3 linked regions of the Homo sapiens genome follow. The protein of the gene in region 2 purifies or fractionates together with the protein of the main gene of each other region. This does not show direct contact. Each region holds a gene or a part of one and is shown on either strand. Other genes may lie near its edges.

Region 1 (7,885 bases), on a different chromosome or scaffold from region 2:
AGATAAGGTGTGCCCCCACTCTAATTCTCCATGAACACTAAAAGGTCTAAAAAAGGTCATTTAGTGGCACCATCTGGTCCGCCCACCCAGCCTACCCGCCTGAAAATCATCTGGATGGTCACACATGAGATGGACAGGTCTCCTCCTGTTTCCTCTAGAACCACCGAATCCCAGCACCAAGGAAAGGACACCAGGAATCCCACCTTTCCCAGTGCTGGGACAGCTACAGACACATCACAAACACTGAGGCCAGTACTGTCAGAGGAGCCAGGCTACACAGAGAGTGAGCTGAGAGACAGGACTCTTAATGAACTCACAGCACAAAGGACAAACAGTTTAACAAATAAATGAATAAAAGGGATATATTCAGATTCTGTAAGTACAGGAACCAAAATACAAGGGGGCTGGGCATGACGTCTCATGCCCGTAATCCCAGTACTTTGAGAGGCCAAGGTGGGCGGATGGCTTGAACCCAGGTGTTTGAGACCAGCCTGGGCAACATGGTGAAACCTTGTCTCTACAAAAAATACAAAAAACTAGCCAGGCATGGTGACACGTGCCTGTAGTCCTAGCTACTTGGGAAGCTGAGGTGGGAGGATCACCTGAGCCCAGGAGGTTGAGACTACAGGGAGACAAAATCGCACTTCTACACTCCAGCCTGGGTGACAGAGTGAGACCCTGTATCAAAAAAAGAAAAAAAATCAACAGAACTAGAAGAGGATAGTGTGATTCTGTGAGTGGAGAAAAGGATACTTCTTTATTTAGGTGGGGTGGGGCTAGATGAGGACCCAGTTTGTGGGGATCTGGGATAAAGCTCTGAGCAGGAAGAAAAGCAAGTGCAAGGCCCTAACGCCAGCACAGAAGGAGGCTAGAGGGATGTGAGTACATGAGATTGTTTAAGGGAAGGATGTGTCTGCCTTGTTCTGTGCTCCTGGACCCTAGATAGGTGCTGGTCACTGGAGAGATGCCTAAGAAGTTGTGTTGAATGAGAGAAAAGGGAGAGGCCAGCTGGAGGTGGGCACATGGTGATAGTGCTCTAAGTGTGAAGAGAAGCCACCAGGGCTTTTTACGCAGGGGAGCCGATGACTTAACTTACACTTTTGACAAAGCCCTCCGGACTGTGGCTATGGAGAGCAGTGGGGAGGCTGCCACTGTCATTCTGATGAGTGGTGATGATGACTTGGGCAAGGAGCAAATCTAGAGTATGTTTTAAAGTTAGAACCTTCAGAATTGCTGACCAACTGGATGTAGGGACCATATCACCAGCTTCCTTATGGATCTCTCCACCTATCCCACACATGGCTGTCTGGAAGCCCTTTTATCTTCCTCAAAAAATCAAAATGGCCTGATTGCTGTTTTCGGATTTTTCAGGTAGTACACAACCATTTAACAGATCAAAACACATGCACACATTCAGGTAAGACATAAAATCCAACAGAAAAAGAACAAAAGAAAAATCCTACAGTCAATCTTAGAGTGTATTCTACCAGACTTTACAACAGATATGGCACACACAAATACACATTCACATATATAATATTTCCAAACAAAACCCAGATGACACAAAATTTTATAACATGCTTTTGTCATCCAATATATCATGCATATCTCCAGATCACAGAGACCCAACCCTGTTAACTCTCCAGGGAGTCAAATACATTCCCTATTTCGACATGGGTGAGAGAGAGCACCAAAAGAGTAATGACACTAGGGGTGAAAGATGCCCCTCTTCGTGTTCCAGCAGCCCCTCCCGGTACCCTATCACAGCACGAACCACACTAGGTGGGCCCTGTTGCCTCTGTCTCTTGTTAGCACACTTAAGTCCTCAGGAGCTGGGCTGGAGCTGGTTTCTCTGTGTCACCAGTGCCCAACACAGGGTAGAGCCTATGGGAGGTCCCAAGGGAAGAATGGACTCTCAATCAAACCTGGGCCAAACCCTCTACTGACTAACGGAGGGCCCAAGAGCTGGTGACATAACCTCCTCCTCTCACCTGAGAAACAGAGATCTGGAAACCTGCCTTGTACAGTAGTAAAGAGGTCTCAAAATGACAATGTATATAATGCCTGCAGAACACATCGGGAGCTCAATAGGTGCTAGTTACATTATAAATCACTACATGTTTTGAGAAAAAAAGTCGGTGAATGAATGAATACATTAAGAAATAAGTAGGCAAATGAGAGTGAATGTGTGAGAAATGAAAGAAATAGGTAAATAAAGGTGAACAAGTGGACAAAAAAGGGCAAAAGGGGGTAAGGAGGCAGATGAATGAGCAGTGTGTGTGAGTGACAGCGGGAGGAAATCCCTGAAAGCTGGTGAAGGCGTAGCTGGGAAAATGAAGGCACAAAGAAGTGGGAACGAGCGACTGAGGGTGAGAATACCATGCCCCCCCTCCCCTACTCACATACTGATTGTCCTCCATCTCCTGCAGAGCCTTAATCTCCCGCAGGGCCTGGTTAGGGAAGCCGTCCTCCAACCGCCTTAGGGCCACCTTCTTGAGGGCAACTATCTCGCCAGTCTGCAGGATAGAAGGCAGACACTGCCAGCCCACCCTCGGCTGGGAAAGAGAGATGAAGGTGGGTGAGGGGAAGGTGGTTGAGAGAGAGACACGCGCCCCCGGCTCGGCCAGAGGCCCTCCTCGGGGGTCTAGGACTAGCCTGGGACCCAGCCGCTGGGGTAGGGGACCAAGCCAGCTGTGCGGAGGGAAGCGCAACGGCCCAAAGTAGGTTTAGAATATGAGTAGGTTTTAAAAACTGTACTGGATGTAAAAAGGGAACCGAAACAGTTTAGAGCGTTAGCCGGAGGGTGGCGGGGGCACACCCCCGCCAGGCTGCCGGCCGCGGTCCAGCCTCACCTCCACGTGCTTGGCCTTGAAGACGATGCCGTGGGCGCCCTCCCCGATGCGGCCCAGGATGCAGTACTGGTCCATCCCGCTGCAGTCGTGGGCCTGTGCCCCTGTGCCCCTGAACTTCCAAACTCCACTTCTCCTCCACCCCACGCTGATCTGAGCTCGCACGCTGTTGCCTAGCAACAGCGCGGCAGCTGACCACTGGGGCGGTTCCTGTAGGCGACGTCACCAGGAGAACGGAAGCTGCGTCGAGTCAGGGGTGACAGCTCCGGGCCCCACTGCGCCTTTTCCTAGCCCTCCGCTGTCACGCAGCAGCAAGCTTAATCCCGCATAAAAAACGCATGCGCCGAGAGCGTGCCCGCAGCAGGGCCCACGGAACGATGACAGCAGGCACCTCCTATCTGCCCCCGCCCCCGGCGTCACGTGACTAGCTGCGCTGGTGCACGCAGCCGGGAGGGGCGGGCTCCTTCCCCTGGCAAGCCGGAAGCTCCGCACCTGTAAGTAGAGGTTCAGGCTTCGACCACGCGCAGGTGCTGTTTTCTAGCTCCGAAAGCCAGGCACTATTGATGCAGACAGACAGGTCCCGGGCTGCGTTGTGGAAAGAGGGTCTGTGGGTCCTCTTGTCTTAAAATGTCAGTTGGCTACGTGTACCCACAGATTTTTAAAAGGGCATACTCTGAGGGCCGGGCACGGTGGCTCACGCCTGTAATCCCAGCGCTTTGGGAGGCTGAGGCGGGCGGATCATCAGGTCAGGAGTTCGAGACCAGCCTGACCAACATGGTGAAACCCCGTCTCTATTGAAAATACAAAAAAAATTAGCCGGGCGTGGTGGCGTGCTCCTGTAATCCCAGCTACTCAGGAGGCTGAGGCAGAAGAATCGCTTGAACCCGGGAGGCAGAGGTTACAGTGAGCCGAGATTGCGCCACCGTACTCCAGCCTGGGTGACAGAGCGAGACTCTGTCTCAAAAACTAAAACTAAAAATAAAATAAAAGGGCATACTCTGACCCAGACAGGACAGAGTAGGCCTTAAACTTCTGAAAGGATGCTCAACTTCACATACAATAAACAAATGCAAACTAAAGTTACAGTTTTTCACATATTGGATGGCTAAAGATCTCAGGTCTAATAGTTCATTGACCAAGCTACGGGAAAACAAGCACTTTCATACATTGCTGGTGGCAGTATAATTTGACGATGTTGATCAAATCACAAATGCACAGACCCTCAGACTCAGCAAAGCCACTTCTAGCAATTTCCCCAATAGACACCTTTTACACATGTGAAATGACATGTACAAAGTTATTCCATTGCAACGTTGTTTCAACGGCAAACTATTGGAAACAACACAGATGTCCATCATTGTGGTGCCTCCTTCAAATGAGGTATTAAATCTTTTTATGTACAGCAATGGGAAGATTTCTAAAATAGGTTGTTAAATGAAAAAGGCAAGATGCAGGACAGAATGCATAGAGTACCACTGGCTGTGTAAACAAAAGGAGAAAAGAATATAAATAATGCTTGTACATCCATTACAAGATATCTGGAAAGATACACAAGATTTCCTGAGTGTGGTTACCTGGTGGAAGAGGGACTGGGAGGACAGGGGGACAGAATAGGAGGCAGACTTTTCACTGGGTCTCTTTACATTATTTGAGTTTTGAATATAATTTATTAATTTTCCAAAAAAGCAAATATTTTCTAGCTTAGAAATTTCACTTCTGGGTTAATAATTGCAGAAGAATGACTTGATGTCCATACAAAGTATTCCTCCTGTTTGATGATAGCAGAGATCTGAAAACAACCCAAATACCCAGATGGAAAAATGGCTAAGTTAAGTTAAGGGAGTGCCATAGAATGGAATAGTTTTTAGCATTAAAACTGGCGAAGATAGGCTGGGCATGGTGGCTCAGGCCTGTAATCCCAGCACTTTGGGAGGCCGAGTCCTACGGATCACTTGAGATCAGGAGTTTGAGACCAGCCTGGCCAACATGGCGAAACTCCCTGCCTGTACGAAAAATACAAAAATTAGCCGGGCATGGTGGCACTCGGCCTGTAGTCCCAGCTACTCAGGAGGCCGACGCGGGAGAATCGTTTGAATGGAGGAGGCGGAGGTTGCAGTGAGCCGAGATTGTGCCAAGGCACTCCACCCTGGGCGACAGAGCAAAACTTGGTCTCAAAAAAAACAAACAAAAAAAAAAAGATACAGTAGGGAAAGGATGGTCTTCACAAATAGTGCTGGGTCATTTGAGAAGTCATAAGGGGAAAATAATGTATATTGACCCCAGTCTCACACCATTCACAAAATTGATTCCAGATGGACTGCAATCTAAATATAAAAGGTAAATAATGAAGCTTTTAGAAGAAAATTATATCTTAATGGCTTTGGATTAATTCAAGATCCTTAGGTTACAGAATACACTAAAAGAAAAACAAAAATGAGAAATTGGCCTTCATCAATGCTAAGAATATCTATTCATCAAAAGATACCATTAGAGACCAGGCACAGTGGCTCACACCTGTAATCCCAACGCTTTAGGAGGCCAACATGGGAGAATCAGTTGAGGTCAGGAGTTCGTGACCAGCCCGGCCAACATGGTGAAACCCTGTCTCTGCTAAAAATACAAAAATTAGCCAGGCATGGTGGCATGCACCTGTCATCCCAGCTACTCAGGAGGCTGAGGCAGGAGAGTTGTTTGAATCCAGGAGGTGGAGGTTGCCGTGAACCAAGATCACGCCACTGCACTCAAGCCTGGGTGACAGAGTGAGACTCCATCTCAAATTAAAAAAAAAAAAAAAAAGATACCATTAGAGAGTGAACAAGAAAGCCACAGAAAGGCAAAAGAGAACTGTAATACATATATCTGACAAAGGACTCACATGTAGAATTTATAGAGAACTTTTATTATAACACTGAAGAAGAAGCAGACAATCTTACAAAAAAAAAATTAGAAAAACCTGGAATAGACACTTCGCAAAAGGTGATTCCTGAACAGCCAATAAATTTTGCAATATGTGTGTTTAACTTCCCTGACTAGAAGGGAATTTCATATTAAAACCACAACAGAGTGTTATTGTAATCACTAGAATAGTTTAAATGAAAAAGATAGATAATACCAAATGCTAGCAAAGAGCAACTTGAACTCTCATACACTGCTGCTAAGAGTGCAAGTTCATACAACCCCTTGGAAAAACTGGCACTTTTTTCCACAGGCACGTACCACCACGCCTGTAGAGGCAGGGTCTCTCTATGTTGCCCAGGCTGATCCTGGGCTTGAGGGATCCTCCCACTTTGGCCTCCCAGAGTACTGGACTTACAGGCCTGAGCCACCACACACGGCTCCACTTTGTCAAGTTTTACTAGCTAGTTTGAGGTTCAAGAAAAGTTTCAAAGCAAATGCCTTTTTATTGGACTAGTGACTTTTTTCTTTTTTTTCTTTTTTTTTTTTTTTTTGCCAAATCAATAACTGCATAATGACTTTTACATGACTAAATTTTACTTATCTTCCCACACATAAGACTGTCGTACAATTATCAAATGCTTTATGAAGCACCATTTTGTGCATAACATCACAGCACAAAGACTAGTATGATTATGGTAATGGGAGTTATTTCACTATTCTCTTCAAGAAATGGTAAAAGGAGACGATAATCTCAATTGATGCAGAAAAAGCATTTGACAAAATTCAACACTCTTTAATGAAGAAAGCACTCAACAAACTATAAATACAAGAAAACCACCTCAACATAATACAGGCCATGCAGGAAAAGCCCACAGTTAACATTACATTCAATGGTGAAAGATTGAAAGCTTTCCCTCTAAGATCAAGAACAAGTCAAGGATCCTCACTTTTGCCGCTTTTATTTTATATAATACTGGAAGTCCTAGCCAAAGCAATTAGAAAAATAAATAAATAAATACATAAATAGGCCGGGCACAGCGGCTCATGCCTGTAATCCCAGCACTTTGGGAGGCTGAGGCAGGTGGATTACCTGAGGTCAGGAGTTCAAGACCAGCCTGGCCAACATGGCGAAACCCCATTTCTACTGAAAATACAAAAATTAGCCGGGCATGGTGGCACGCACCTGTAGTCCCAGCTACTTGGGAGGCTGAGGCAAGAGAATCGCTTGAACCCGGGAGGCGGAGGTTGCAGTGAGCCGAGATCGCACCACTGCACTCCAGCCTGGGTGACAGAGTGAGACTCCGTCTAATAAATAAATAAATGAATGTAGGTAAATAAATAAATAGCATCCAAATTGGAAAGAAAAAACTATCTCTGTCTAGAGACAACATGATAATATATGTAGAAAATCCTAAATATGCCACAAAAAACTGTTAAAACTAATAAACAAGATAAACAGAGTAGCAAGATTCAAAATCAATATGCAAAAATCAATAGTTTCTATATACTAACAATGAGCACTCTGAAACAGAAATTAAGAAAATAATTCCATTTACAATAATATCAAAAAGAATAAAATACTTAGGAGTAAATAAGGAAGCAAAAGACTCATAGGTTGAAAACTAAAAAATGTTGCTGAAAGAAAGACACAAATAAATAGACATCTTGTGTTCATGGACTGAAGGACTTAATATTTTGAATATGTCAATACTACTGAAAACAATTTAAAGGTTTAATGGAATCTCCATGGGATTTCTTTTTTGCAGAATTAGAAAAAAAAATTATTCAGAAACCAATGTGGATTCTCAAGAGGCCCTAAATAGCCAAAACCAATCTTAAAAAAGGAGGAGGTCTTACTCGTCCAGATTTTAAAGCTTACCACAAGCTATAGTAATCAAAAAAGTGTGGTACTGACATAAAGGCAGACAGCCCAATGGAATAGAATGGAGAGCCTAGAAGTAAATCTTCACATACCTGATCAAATGATTTTTAAAAAAATTATGAAGACCATTCAATGGGGAAAGGACAGTCTCTTTAACTAATGATGGTGAGAAAGCTAGAGCTCTACATGCAAGAAAATGAAAAAATTGACCCCTTATATCATATGGAAAAACTAACTCAAAATGGATTAAAGACCC
Region 2 (7,520 bases):
ACAGACACACTGGTCTGCCCAGGCGGCTGCAGCTCTGGGACACCAGCCACAGGGCACTGGGAGCCCGGAGTGCTGTCGGAGGCTTTTGTTCCCTGTTGCCGGGATATCTGCCTGCTCAGTCATCCGAGCTCTGAGCCGCAGGGTGGCTCTCGGTGCCACCCCCGTCGCCTGCCCTCCCTCCCTCACCCTGCCGCTGACAGCCTCTGGCCAAAGCCCTCGGCTCCCCCAGGGCCTGGACCACCGTCTCCCTTTGCCTGGGCCTGGCTGGCCCTCTCTGTGAGTGAGTGGGTCCAGGGAGGGGGCTGGGCAGCCGAGAGTGGAGAGGAAGGGGGAGAGAGAGAGAGAGCGCGCAGGGATGAGAGGTGGGGGATCTGATGACTTTCCTTGTTTGTTGAGCCGGCTGCTGGCCTGGGCCTTCACCCCCCACGGCCCCCTCCCCCCACTCCAGGCTCAGTTGATTATTACCCAGCCAAGAGCTAAGAGCATAGCACTCATTCCTGGGGCCCGTTTCTCGAAGCGCAGCTGCACAGGCTTAGGGTAGGGTGGGGCTGAGGGTCTCTGCTTTTTCGGTGCAGCTGCAAATGACCCTGCTCTAGGGTCAGGGGCATTGGAAATGGCTTGGGACTGCGGTCCTGTGGCCTGCCCGCTTTGGGTGCTTCAGGGAAGAGTCTGGGCGTCCTTGGGGGGCCCCTGACTCCAACTAGCCCTTGATGGTGATGGCTGAAGACTCTTAGGGCACTGCCTACCCAGCCTCAAATCCACCATCCTCCTGCCTTGTCCATTCTTAGGTGCTTAATCTTGTCCAAAGCCTGCTGGGGGACAGGGGTCCTGGGCTGGGACGGCAGGGCAGGTGGGTGGATAATGCCCGGCAGCAAGGCTGGGATGTTTACATGGTGGCCTGGGCCCCTTGGCTGCTCAGTGCCTGGTTCCAGAGACGTGGAACACGAAGTGAGTGTGGTAGGCAGAGCCCCAGTGGAAGGCACCTGGCTCAGGTAATTGTCCCCCCAGGGAGGTTGGCTGACAGCGGGGGTTGGAGGCAGGAAACTGAGCAGAGGTTGAGGTGGGGGGCTGGGACAGCAGCTTTAGGAAGGCCCCTTACCCCCTCCACCCTCCATTGGGACACACCTGGCCCTCACATGCTAAGGCACCCCTTCCATTCCACCCTCCCCAAGCCAACTGCAAAAGGGCAGGACGTAGAGCCTGGCAGGGAGGCCACGTTCCAGTTTCCGTTTCTGACTCCCGGCCCCGACAAACCATCCCGGGGCAGGGCAGTGTCTAGGAATTCTAGGACTTGGGACAAGAATGCGCCTTCAGTTCATCGCTCTCCCCAAGGAGATTCTGTCCACGCAGAGTCTAGCCCTGGTCTTTGGCCTGGGCCTGCTGGATGAATGGCAGGTTATTTCCCCTTGAATCTCAGCCTCTGCACCCCTAAAGCCCTCCACCTCTGGACATTCTCCCTTCTCTCTCTCTCTCTCTCTGGAAGTCAAAGGAGGGGCAGTTGCAAGAACTGGGCTCCTTTGCAGGGCTCCCTTCTGGGGCGCTGGCCGCACCGCAGAGCCTACTTGGCCTGCAGATTTGGGATATGAATCCAGTGCAGCGTGGGGAGCGAGGAGGGAATGGGGAGGGAGCGGCCGCCGCCCGTGCCTCCTCTACCTGCCAGGTGGGATCTGCGTGGCGGAAGTAGCAGAAGTTGTCCGTGATCCACTTGTAGATGGCCGACAGGGTGATCTTGGTGGCCTTGCTGGCCTGCATGGCCATGCAGATGAGCGTGGCATACGAGTAGGGAGGCTTCACGTGCGGATTGGTGGCGTAGTCCACGTCGTCGGGGGGTGGGGCCTGCAGCCCCGGGGGCGCGCTCCGCGACGTGCACGACGACGTGGGCTTGCCCGGCGTGTGTGGCTGCCCCAGGCAGGCGGGGTCGGCCGCCAGGGGGGACCCGGGCGCCGCTGAACCTGGCACCTGGTGGTAGCCGTGGGGGTCGGTGCCCCCCGGGGGCAGGGCGGGGGCCTTGGCGTTGAGAATGGAGAATTCCTGCAGCCACTGCAGGCTGGTCAGGCTGTCATCCAGGGCGTCGGGCTCCTCCAGGCCGCCCTCCGGCCCGGCCTCCTCCGCCGGCCCGGCTCCCGAGAGGCGCAGCCAGCTCTCCGCCATGTCTGCGGGGACTCTCCGAGGGGGCGGTCAGCATCCACGGGCTGAGCCGGGGGTGGCCCGCCGCGCTCTCTGGCCCGCTGAGTCCCGCAGCTCCCGTTACACGGCCTCCCGGACGCGCGCTTCCATCTCGCGACCCCGGGGGCGCCTCCTCCGAATAAGTATGTGGTGCCTGCGAGGACCACGGTGGGAGCTGAGCACTACCCCACCCCCGAGGGGACAGTGTGTGTACGGGGACGCCCTCTCTAACATCATCCCCGCAGCTGGGGAGGATCTTTTAGTGCCGAGGTATGGGAAACAGAAGCAAGGCCCTGGGGTCCCACCCCCATCAGATCTGCCTCCCTCTTCCTTTCCTCTTCGAGGTTTTATTAGCCAAATGAAGAGGGTAGGGGCATCCGAGGCTATCCTTTTCTCCCGAAGAGCAGGAAATCAGGACCCCCTTCCTCCTCGCAACAAATGGAAGTGGGGCGAGAAGTTTGGGAGGGCGGTACGACGGGGCGGGGGCGGTGGAGGTCCTCTGATCCTTGAAAAGGAATATTATGATAGGGGATCATTGGGAAGGAAGGGGACGGAACAGTAACGGGGGGCAGGAGGCGAGTTTCCCCCAGACTTCTCCGATGTCAGTCCCTGGGCCCACCACTTCCGTTAAGGACGAATGAGAGAGCGGGTTGGTACCGTTGCCCACCCTTCCCCCTGGCCTGCAGCCCTCCCCATCCCTTACCTGGCTCAGAGCGCAGCCCGGGCCAGAGGAAGGTTCTGGAAGAAGTTGCTCCCACCCCCTGCGGCTCTCTGCCCCCAGCTCGGGGGCCCTGCCAGCGCCTCTTGCCGCCCCCCCGCCCGACGGCGCTTCTCTGAGCTACCGCGGCCCCGGGACCGGCATTAAGTAGCCGCTCCAAAGGCTTCTCCTGCTGCCATGGCGACGCTCCGCCCCCATAAACAGCTTCCGCCTCTGCCATTGGCCAGCACGTCTCCAAGGAGACCGCGGGCACTTGCCACTCTCCCTGGCGGCAACTCTCTTCGAACTCCCTCCTTCTGCCGCCCTCTCCCGCGCCACCCAACCCCCTACCCGCCGCTAAGTCCCGGCTCGGCTCATTCCCGCCCGAGGGCCCCGCGCTGGGGTCGGAGAAGCGCGCGGCCTGCGGCACCGGGAACCGCTATGGATCCGTTCGTTCTGGGGAACCAAGACTCTCGCCCCCACCCCCTTCCTGTCCCGTACGCTTTGAGGCGTCGACTGCTCCTGGGACGGAGCCTGGGGTTGGGGGGCTAAGGCTGGGAGCGGGCTCAGGCTCGGGAACCGTATCCTTGAGGTTTTCTTTCCTCTCCGCTACGAGTGGCACTTTCTCATGTTTCTGCAGCCTTTCCCTCTCCCCCGACTCTTAGGGTCTTTCTCTGGTGTCCCAGGCAGGTCTGACTTTCCGATGCCACCTGCCGCTTACATCCACAGAGGCGGCAGACACACCAAGGGGGTAGGGTAATCCAGTGTGTCCCAGTAAGCAGCTCCTTCCCCACCCGTATCCTCGAGGTTCCAGGAAGCTGACATTCCAGAGGCTTCTGCAGAAGCGCACTCACTCCTCTGGAGACAGCTGATGAAGCAGAGCCCGTGGGTAAAACTCTGAAGTCATGGACTTGTCAAATTCTCCTAGCGGGGTCATTTGCCCAATTAATTTCACCAACCTTTAAGTCACAGGGATTAAGAGTAGAGGGACTCTGGGGACTGTGTCCCTTCCTCCTCCCTTCCCCTGGCCTCCCTCCTGTCACCAGCTTTCCTGCTCTTTAATTATTGAGGAGCTGCAGGGTTGGACGTTCTCCGGTTTAAGGCGGCTGCAGAGGCAGTGGTGGGGGCTGGGTTGATTACCCCGCCTCTGCCCAGGAGCTGGAGAGCCGGGGTCGGGGAGGCTGGTGCCCAGACCATGAAGAAGGCCCGGCTATGGCGCATCACTCCCCCGCCAACATGCCTTTCCCTAGCCCTTGCCTCTCCCACTCCTCCAACTCCAGATCCTCTTGAGTAAAAGTATTAAAGAGTGCTGGCGAAAGTCAGACAGAAACTTTCACAGATAAGCTCACTTTGCAGTTAGCTCTCCTTCCCTTGTAAACAGTTTTATTCATTTTTAAGAATCATGCAGCAATCCATAAATATTGCATTCTTGATGTCCCCACTGTAGTGTGACCACAAGTGTACTCCAGGGAGAGGGGTACACAGATGGCACAAGCAGTATACACATGCACACACCAGGTGTGCAGACCAAAGCAAAGTGAGCGACCAGCGTGCTAAACTCCAGGTGGGCAGGACCCCAACTCCCAGGTGAGGTGGGCAGGACCCTAACTCCCAGGCCAGCCGGCTTAGAGTGTGGTGGTCTGTGCCCAGGAGATGCCTCAGCGGGGGTAGAAACTCTGGTGGGATGGAGCTGGGCAGAAGGAAAAAAGGGCTCTGTGAGGAAGCCGGGATCACACCACCTGAAGGCAATAGGGAGAGCACAGGCCTAGTGCAGCAGGAAGGAGCCCTGGGTCTCCATAGTTAGGCTGTGCCCTGTGGGAGAAGCCAGGCCCCACCTCTTCTCTTTGGGTGAACTGTTGACGTGACTATGTGACTGTCTCCAGATGAAGGACTGGGGCAAAAGGGTTGGCCACTGACCTGTCCTCATCAGGCTGACTGAGGACCAGCTCCTTGGATGGAGTATTTCTGTGGGCCAGAGAGCTAAATGACAGCCAAGAGAAGGCAGGGGGAGGGAGGAAGAGGAGAAATAGTAACTGAGAAACAAGTAAAGGACATTTCTAACCTAGGTATGCCTTGGACATGGGACTGAGGCCTTGAGGAATCTTTCCGTGCTTCTCCCTAGGAGAGGACTAAGCACCTGCTGCGAGGAAGGACAGGGATCCTCAGGAAGGGGGTCCTGGCCACTGTGGCTACTGTTTACCTGAATCTCCTTCATCTCAGCTCCTTCCTCCCTCCTCCCAGGTAACACCACACTGTGAATACTACCTGCAGGGGACAGGACAGGAGGTGGTCTGTGTGCCACCACCCCAGGGTAAGGGAAGCTCCCTGTCACCTGCTGCTTCTGGGCTCATATTTCAGGGAAATCAGGAAGTGGGGTTATTGCTCAGCTTATGCATCTTAACTATGAAAGGGGCGGGAAGAATGTAGGGGGAAGGAAGGAAAGAACATTAGGTGGGGCCTGAAATGGTAAAGTCTACTGCAGTTTTTCAGAGAGGGTTGGACGACAGGCCCCCCTCTCCATCAGGGCAGGATGTGAGCCACAACCACTAGGCAGTGAGACAGTCACTGCACTCCTGGCCTCTGCAGCCACACAGAAACGAAGGACCCCCTGGGCACCAGGCTCTTTTTGAGGCTGCCTTGGAAACAGCCTTGAATTTTTTTTTTTTTGTTTGAGACAGAGTTTCGATCTTTTCAATCTTGTAGCCCAGGCTGGAGTGCAGTGGCACGATCTTGGCTCACCGCAACCTCCACCTCCTGAGTTCAAGCGATTCTCCTGCCTCAGCCTCCCGAGTAGCTGGGGAGGGCCCTTGAAGTGAAGGCCCTGAGCCCTGATTCCAACCTCTGCTCCCAGCACACTGCTGCTGGCCACATGCTGCTGCCTGAACTTAGCTCAAGGCTCTCCATCACTTCCTTTGGGGACCTGGGCACCAAACTGAGAATCACTGGTCCACATTTCTCTCAACCATTAACAAAAGGGGGTAGAGATGGGGGCAACAGGGACAAGAATGCCACCTCCCAATTGAGTGAGGATGAATTATGGTAATATACGACCACTCCTCACCCAGTGCTTGGCACACAGAGGTGGTCAACACATGTGTTTCTTGAAATGTCACCTTAGGATGGAGTTGCAGGCCTCCCTGAATGCACCTGATCAGGAGAAATGCTCCTTAAGGGAAATCATCTTAACTGGGGGATTCTCAGATTCAAGGGCTCCTTCTTTTTTTTTTTTTTTCTCTGTCGCCCAGGCTGGAGTGCATTGGCGCGATCTCGGCTCACTGCAAGCTCCGCCTCCCGGGTTCAGGCCATTCTCCTGCCTCAGCCTCCCAAGTAGCTGGGACTACAGGCGCCTGCAACCATGCCCAGCTAATTTTTTGTATTTTTAGTAGAGACGGGGTTTCGCCGTGTTAGCCAGGATGGTCTCGATCTCCTGATCTCATGATCCACCCGCCTCGGCCTCCCAAAGTGCTGGGATTACAGGCGTGAGCCACCGCGCCCGGCCAAGAGCTCCTTCTTAACCGCACAGGCATGTGAGGCCCAGAAGACTGGCTCTGCCACCAGAAGGAAGGATTGTTTCCTTCAACCAACCTTTTGGTTGCTACCATTTCTTGTCCTTGAGAAAGGTGCTCCTAGTGCTTGTAGAGGGAAACGCTACGTCCGTGCAGTATGGCTCTCCCTTTCCACAGGAGCGATCCTCCAGCCCTACCCCAAACTGCAGGTTTCCAATTGGTTATGATGTGCCAGAGACCAGGAAATGCCAGAGGGATGTTTGTAACAAAGCTGCCAAACTCTAAGCCTTCTTGTTCTACCCCCTAAGGAGAAAAAAGATGTGTAAGAAATTAGCCCATGGACCCCAGCTCCACCTGAACATCAATATACCGTGAGGACATTCCAGAGTCCCTGCAAAAGGTCTCGTGAGCTGCAGTTCATTGAGTGGCTTTAGGTCACACGGAGAAAGGAGGGTTCCAGTTCCCTCTGAGAGGTGAGGGATTGTGGTTACAGGTTGTAACAGCTGTCACAGGAGGGTAAAAAGTCTCCAGCATCTTGCTGAGGATGCCCAGTAGGCAGCAGCTGAGTGAGGATGGATGGAATGCAGGGCAGGAGGGGAGCCCAAGTGCAGAGGCTGGGGCTCAGACAGCCAAAGGGCCCCACACACAGGGCCTCGTCTCAGAGTCCTCCAGGCTGCTGGATGACAAGCGCCGGCGCTGGGCATTCCGACTGACGGCATTGTCATCAGCCTGCCAGGCACCTGGGGAAGAGAAAATGAACATTACAGGAGCCAGACCTTTGGCCAAATCCAGATGGTGTCTCCAGCAGGGCAGCCCAGGAGCCGGCACGGAAGGAGCAGGATGCGTGTCACCTGAGACTCCGATGACGGTGCGAGCCACAGCACTCGTGTGTGAGAACGGAGAGAAGCAGGTGCTGACAGGTGCAGAGCCTGCTCCTGCCCCCTGGGCTAGGTACAGTCACTGCCACTGTGGCTCCCGGACAGGGAGGGACATGAAAGATGTTCCTTGTTTTGCGAACTTACCCTGGGATCCACTTTTGTATTTTAATTACTTGGTTTTAAAGTTTGCCTATATGTTACAATAGACAGGAAAAGGAAATTGGGCCTTGCTGAGCTATTTTCATTGGGGCAGGAAGAGGTGGGGGGAAGTGA
Region 3 (7,021 bases), on a different chromosome or scaffold from region 2:
ACCCCACAGCTAACTTTGTATTTTCTGTAGAGACGGGGTTTCGCCATGTTGCCCAGGCAGGTCTCAAACTCCTGGGCTCAAGCGATCCACCCCACCCAGCCTCCCAAAAAGTGCTAGGATTACAGGCATGAGCCACTATGCCCCGCCCAATTGTTTAATTTCGCTTCCCTCTTTTACTTGGCCTAAAATACCAAAATTTGACAAGTTATCATAATCAGTCTCTTAAAAATGCAAATGTCTTTCAGAGAATTAATGAAGACATCAGTCATTCATATGTAAGTGTGAAGTAGTATAGTGGCTACTTTTATGTATTGCTGACCTTATATGAAATAAAGTGAGTGAGTCTATAATTTCCTTTACCATAAGAACACTTTGCTAAAAATACTAGCTTTCAAAATATAGTGCCTTACTCCAACTTCTATTTCTCTCAACAAATCTTCTTTGATATTTCTTCTTTACTATGATAGAAGTCTGGAAAGACTCCTACTTTTCATTTGTTAAATTTTATTCACTTCTAATTCCCTTTAAAGCTTGTTTTTTTCTTTTTTCAAAAAGTTATGACCAATTATGTGGGAAGAAACAATAACTAGTAACATACATACCAAAGTTGTCCATCTCAATATATAACAAGGGAATAAAAAATAGTTACATGCTCTTCCTCTTCCCCATCCCCTTTCCTACTAAGTGTTAGAATCTCATAAAGCCACATGTTCTTATATACAGTATGTTAATATACTATGAATGGAAGATAGAAAAATCAATGCTTGGATATAAAAAAGAATTATTGTATCTAAACCCAAGTAGAGTTGGCAAATCAGCAAAGGCTAAACTGATTCAAGTCAGTTGGTTACACTACAGTAACACAGACACCAATATCAAAGGTTAAACCCACACAGTGGCCAGTTAATTTCACACTAAAGAAAAACTTCTGGTCGGGTGAGGTGGCTCACGCCTGTAATCCCAGCATTTTGGGAGGCTTAGGCGGGCAGATCACTTTACATCATGAGTTTGAGATCAGCTTGGCCAACGTGGGGAAACCCCGTCTCTACTGAAAATACAAAAATCAGCCAGGCATGGTGGTGTGCACCTATAATCCCAGCTACTCAGGAGGCTGAGGCAGGAGAATCACTTGAACTCAGGAGGCAGAGGTTGCAGTGAGCCAAGATCACACCATTGCACTCCAGCCTGGGTGACAGAGTGAGACTGTGTCTTAAACCAAAAAAAAAAAAAAAAAAAAGGAAAAGAAAAAAGAAAAATTTCCAACAAAGATTTTGCCACAATTCAACTCAACCATCTGGAAAAGGAGTGTTGTTCACTAGGAAAAAAGAGTAAAAATGAGATTATCACTATTATCAGAAAAATAACTAAAAGTACATATTCTTACTCCATTTCTAGCCTTCAAATAATCTCTAAGTATGAGAAAATACAAAAGCTCTCTTCACACAAAAAAAAGGATGAATGACACCTCTTCTCTCATGAGATGTGAAAATATTCCTTAATGTTTTTTAAGGTTTAGTCACCACATGGAAGAAAACAATTTTCTCCCCTTTTTGAACATAGCCCCATGATCTTCATTTGTTAAAAAGAACAAAACATTTAACAACGGGGTTTTTAGAAACTGGGAGAGCAAGCAATTAACATACTGAACTCACACTTGCTTTAACATGCTATCTTATTCGGGGTGTTTAAAAAACGTTTTAAATGCAATTAATGCATTCATTTTCAAAGGAAAATAAACATTTTTGATATTTGCCTTCAACTGAAATAAATCATGTAAAGGAAGTTAGTTGGTTTCATTTCTCTATTTTCTAAGGATTAAGTTTAAGCACATTTTTTATGCTAACCAAACATATATAAAAACTCCAAGCTACACATATAAGAAACACACCAAACCATGGTGAGAAAAGAATATTTAGTCCACAAACCAGTCAAAATTACCACTGAAATCTAAAACTAATTTAACGCACATTTTTCTCCTTCTGAAATAGTCCAGCCTACAACCATGAGCTAAAATCAGTTAATACCCTTTATTCATAACTTATGAGTAATTCAGGGGAAATCTACCCTTCTTTGTATAATGAGTGCTTAATGATCTCATCAACACACTGGAAAAACATGCTGGTCAATCAGTAGAGTCTCATCTTGAGACAAATCTACATGAGAGGTAAAATTATAATCAGAAGATTACTTGAAAAATGTGAAACCAGATAAGTCAACAATCAATAGCATCAGACTAGTGCAGCCATCTCCAATAGGACAGATGGTATAGAACAGGGGACAGATCTGCTTCAAGGGGCAGGTTATTGCATCCCCTGAAAGTTATACAAACATTCTGCCAAATGTATTTTGGTATCTTTCCTTGTTTATAGAAAGATTAGGTGATATAAATCAATTTTGAAATTTTTTTGCTACTTACTATGCATCTTCATTGTTGTATAGCTGAGCCTCTACTTCTTCATTTATTAAAAAAAAAAAGTAATAAAATCTCTTACAGAATTGGTATAAGGGGGCCAGGCACGGTGGCTCATGCCTGTAATCCCAGCACTTTGGGAGGCCGAGGCGGGCGGATCACGAGGTCAGGAGATCGAGACCATCCTGGCTAACATGGTGAAACCCGGTCTCTACTAAAAATACAAAAAATTAGCCGGGCGTGGTGGTGGGCACCTGTAGTCCCAGCTACTCAGGAGGCTGAGGCAGGAGAATGGTGTGAACCCGGGAGGCGGAGCTTGCGGTGAGCCGAAATCGCGCCACTGTACTCCAGCCTGGGCGACAGAGCAAGACTCCGTCTCAAAAAAAAAAAAAAAAAAAAGAATTGGTATAAGCTTCAACAAATCAGTTTCTCTGAGGTTGTAACAAGTCATACAGATTGAATTTTATCTCTTGGGTTTAATTTTATATACAGCTGATACAATCCCTTACTTTTTATATTTAAAAGACCTATCATTTATTAAATATCTATCATGTGCTAGGAACTTTACTATCTCTCATCCTTACAAATGTTCTATAAGGCAGGTGTGATTCCCACTTGAAAGATCACAAAGTAAGGCTCAGAGAGGTAACATTGCTCACCAAATGTTAAATAACTAATCAGATGTGTAGTCAGGATTAGAACCCATATCTAGCTAGCTTTAACTCTGAGCTCTTTACATCATACTGTCTCATTCCTTATAGTGTATCTTCATAATTTTATTTTCACAGGGTAGCAACTACAATTTGGGGAATACTTTGCCAACAAAGTCACATACTATAATTCTGTGGAAGATAAGAATATATTTCAAAGGTCTGATAAATCAGTGAATTGGAAGGTCTAAAACAGAGTAATACTTCAAAGATAAGTGGGACAAGACAGAAACAAAATAAGAGTAACTTTAATATCAGGGATAAATAGGGGGACAATAAAAGACCTCATGTTGAAATAGCTCATTACTGTAAACTGGTTATTTTCAAAGTTAAAACAAACGGTGGGGGGCGGGGGGACTTGAGAAAATACTCAAACTAGGGGTTCTCACTAACAGATCAGGAACTACTTGTGGTTCCTGCCTTACCTAGTAGGTCTCCAAGCTGGTTGGCCTTCTCTTGGGTTTGTCAGAATTTCCAGTAAAGGGAGAAAAGCAGGATAAGAGCTCTTAGGCCTTATCAGCAGAGCTCTTAGGCCTCATCAGCACAACTTTAACACTAATAGCAACACTACTCTGTTTCTATCCCTCAAGTAAGTTCCAAGCTTTAAGAAAATAGGCTCTTTTTACAGCTCCCATACTTCCTGCCTCCAAAAGGTTGAGTGGCACTGTCTCCTCTCATGGGATACATTTGGAAGGGTTAGCCACCAGATGACAGAGTAGTACCCCACAGTACTTACTTCCTAAAACAGGAAAAATCATGTTTCTTGTGCAGAACTCCTCTATTAAGACTGCACAGGATCCATGAAGTTAAAATATCACATGCTAGAACAATGCCACAGAAAGTATAACTAGCATTCCTGACTAGAACAGCAAGGAGTGTCTCCTGGCTGCTGCATATTATAAATATACAGCTCATTCCTCATCAGTACAGTGTCGAGAAAAAAGTATATACACGTATATATACACACGTATACACACATATATACGTATATACACACGTATACACACGTATATACACACGTATACACACACGTACGTATATACACACGTATACACACACGTACGTATATACACACGTATACACACACGTATACACACACGTGTATATATATACACGTATACACACACGTGTATATATATACACGTATACACACACGTGTATATATATACACGTATACACACACGTGTATATATATACACGTATACACACACGTGTATATATATACACGTATACACACACGTGTATATATATACACGTATACACACACACGTGTATATATATACACGTATATATACACACATATATATGTATATATATACACGTATTTATGGAATTGCAGGGTTTTTAAAAATTGAAATCATTCAGTACGTATAATATTACATAAAATATTGCCGGTGGGGAGATATATATATTTATGTATATATATACACACGTGTGTACATATATACACATATATATGTATATATATACACACGTGTGTACATATATATACATATATATGTATATATGTACACACGTGTGTACATGTATATATATACACACGTGTGTACATATATACATATATATGTATATATATGTGGGTACATATATATGTGTGTCATAGATAAGATTTTTATCCCACAAATATGGGATTAGAGAGACTAGGTTTTTATTCTACAAGATTAGCTCAGAGTAGAAATGAATAGCAAAATCTATTAATGCATTCATTAAATTTCTTGAACTATAAATATCACAATTAGATTTTCAGCACTTCAAAACAGTCCTGTGACTTTTCCAATAACTAGAAAAAAAATACATCTATTTTCAAAAACTCCCATGTCAAGATTATTTCCAGAACCCAAATTCATCTTTTATTAAAAGGTAATAAATGAGAAACTAATAACAGTTATTAGATTCCAGGTAGAAGAATTTAGTAGCTGGAGGCTGATGTACGAAGGGGACTTCTGAATTTTAAACTGTGGCAATATTACCTATTCAAAGTAATTAATTTTATTTTATTTATTATTTATTTTTTGAGATGGAGTCTCATTCTGTCACCCAGGCTGGAGTGCAGTGGTGCAATCTCAGTTCAAAGTAATTAATTTTAACAACTAAAATCTACTGATGAGAACACACAGCACTTCTGTAGACTTGTAAGCTTTCCTCATACTTTGTAATATCTAAAAAAATTACAAAATACATTCCTGCAGTAAAGACAATAAATTCATCAGAACGGGCTGCAAAAGCTAACTCCTTCTAGAATTTTAAAACAAAACAAATATCAAAAATCCAATCCCACACTACTGTTTCATTAAATCATGGACTATATTACCGAATTGTCACTGCGTAAAATACAGTTTTTATTTTTGAGACCGAGTCTTGCACTGTGTCACCTGGGCTGGAGTGCAATGGTGTGATCTCAGCTCACTACAACCTCAGCCTCCCGCGTTCAAGCGATTCTCCTGCCTCAGCCTCCAGAGTAGCTGGGATTACAGGCGTGAGCCGCCATGCCTGGCTCATTTTTGTATTTCTAGTTAAGACGAGGTTTCACTACGTTGGCCAGGCTGGTCTTGAACTCCTGACCTCGTGGTCCACCTGCCTCGACCTCCCAAAGTGCTGGGATTACAGGCGTGAGCCATTGCTCTGGGCCTGTAAAATACAATTCTACTAGTACATGAAATCCCAATCTCAGGAATTTAAGAAATTAAAAAAGCTAATGATTAGGCTAGTATTTAGTCTTAGGATAGCTGATCATTTCAGCTAACGAGTGAACACAATAGTCCATGAAATACCCAGACCAATATTTCCTTACGTGGGGTGTAAGAAATGCTCCCCCATGGAAAGCTTTGAAAAATCCTCAAAGATTTTAATCTATAGGGTCTAGTTTCTTTCTTCTTCAAACACTGGCCATTACAGATAAGACAAAGCGTATATACACACACACATAATGTATGTACAAACATGTATATACACAAATATACCCACATACACACACACATACACATACACACGTGTGTATGTAAATATATTTAAAAGTGGTGTCAAGGAAGTTTTTATACCAATTAACCTGTGGGCAATGAAGCAGCTAAAGACCATTCTGACAGACTTTTTGCCTGAAAACATATTATACTGTAACTATTTTATTACCACTAAAGAACCTGAAATGCATCTTTATATAAAACAAATGATTTTATATACAGTCTGAACTAGTTTGTCTCAAAACAGCGAGTCTCACTTTGATTCCCTATCTGGAAAGTTGTCTGATCCACTATTAAGTAACTCTATCCAAGATCCTAATGCAAATGTTACATATCCATTAAGAGTTAGTAAAAGGTTAAAAAAAAAAAAACAAAAACCACACATACATTCTTAGCTTTAGTTCTTTAATTATCCTGTAATAATTAAACCCAGCATATTCCTAAACTAGCAACAACAAAATCCCTTTCTTTCCAAACTAGAAAGTGACACTTTGCGTGCTCCATAAAACTTTCGAAATAGAGTATTCTTAGTTAACTTCTGATCATTATATGAATCGGACATTTAAAAAAACGTAATTAAAATGTCAATTTTTCAAAGAATAACATATTTTTCCATATGGCTGGCAACATCTTTATTATTTTAGTTAACGAATTCATCTTAATGTTTTATTCATTTTAAGGCCATTTATGTGCCCTCTTTAAGACTCACACTATTTTCCCTAAAGTTCTTTTCCTCTCTGCTCTGTGCCAACACAGAATCTCCAAAACAGTTTGTACTAGCTGCAGAGAAGCAACAATTCTACAGTAAATTTCATTTACCATTTGGTTGGGTACATACTGAAATTTGGATTCATGAATATTGACAGTTTATAGACATCAATGAGAAGAAAATTGACACTGGCATGTGACTGCCAACAACCAAGTCACCTTACCTCACATAGAAA

The links.
Region 1: the proteins of FOXJ1 (region 2) and CDK20 purify together in Homo sapiens (affinity purification with mass spectrometry; 4 studies listed by BioGRID and IntAct, with this or other methods). This does not show direct contact.
Region 3: the proteins of FOXJ1 (region 2) and FBXO11 purify together in Homo sapiens (affinity purification with mass spectrometry; 4 studies listed by BioGRID and IntAct, with this or other methods). This does not show direct contact.

What each region holds. Positions count from the first base shown.
Region 1 is NC_000009.12:87,971,520-87,979,404, forward strand, and holds the start of CDK20 (cyclin-dependent kinase 20), read right to left. Parts: upstream 3,015-7,885; 5' UTR 2,928-3,014; coding exon 2,853-2,927; intron 2,721-2,852; exon of another isoform or gene 2,651-2,720; intron 2,556-2,650; coding exon of another isoform or gene 2,517-2,555; coding exon 2,403-2,516; intron 1-2,402. UniProt on the Homo sapiens protein: Required for high-level Shh responses in the developing neural tube.
Region 2 is NC_000017.11:76,138,245-76,145,764, forward strand, and holds the start of FOXJ1 (forkhead box protein J1), read right to left. Parts: upstream 3,002-7,520; 5' UTR 2,870-3,001; exon of another isoform or gene 2,321-2,869; 5' UTR 2,152-2,320; coding exon 1,654-2,151; intron 1-1,653. Other genes in the region: E3 ubiquitin ligase RNF157, read right to left, coding at 6,991-7,109. UniProt on the Homo sapiens protein: Transcription factor specifically required for the formation of motile cilia. Acts by activating transcription of genes that mediate assembly of motile cilia, such as CFAP157.
Region 3 is NC_000002.12:47,896,485-47,903,505, forward strand, and holds part of FBXO11 (F-box only protein 11), read right to left. Parts: intron 1-7,021. UniProt on the Homo sapiens protein: Substrate recognition component of a SCF (SKP1-CUL1-F-box protein) E3 ubiquitin-protein ligase complex which mediates the ubiquitination and subsequent proteasomal degradation of target proteins, such as DTL/CDT2, BCL6, SNAI1 and PRDM1/BLIMP1.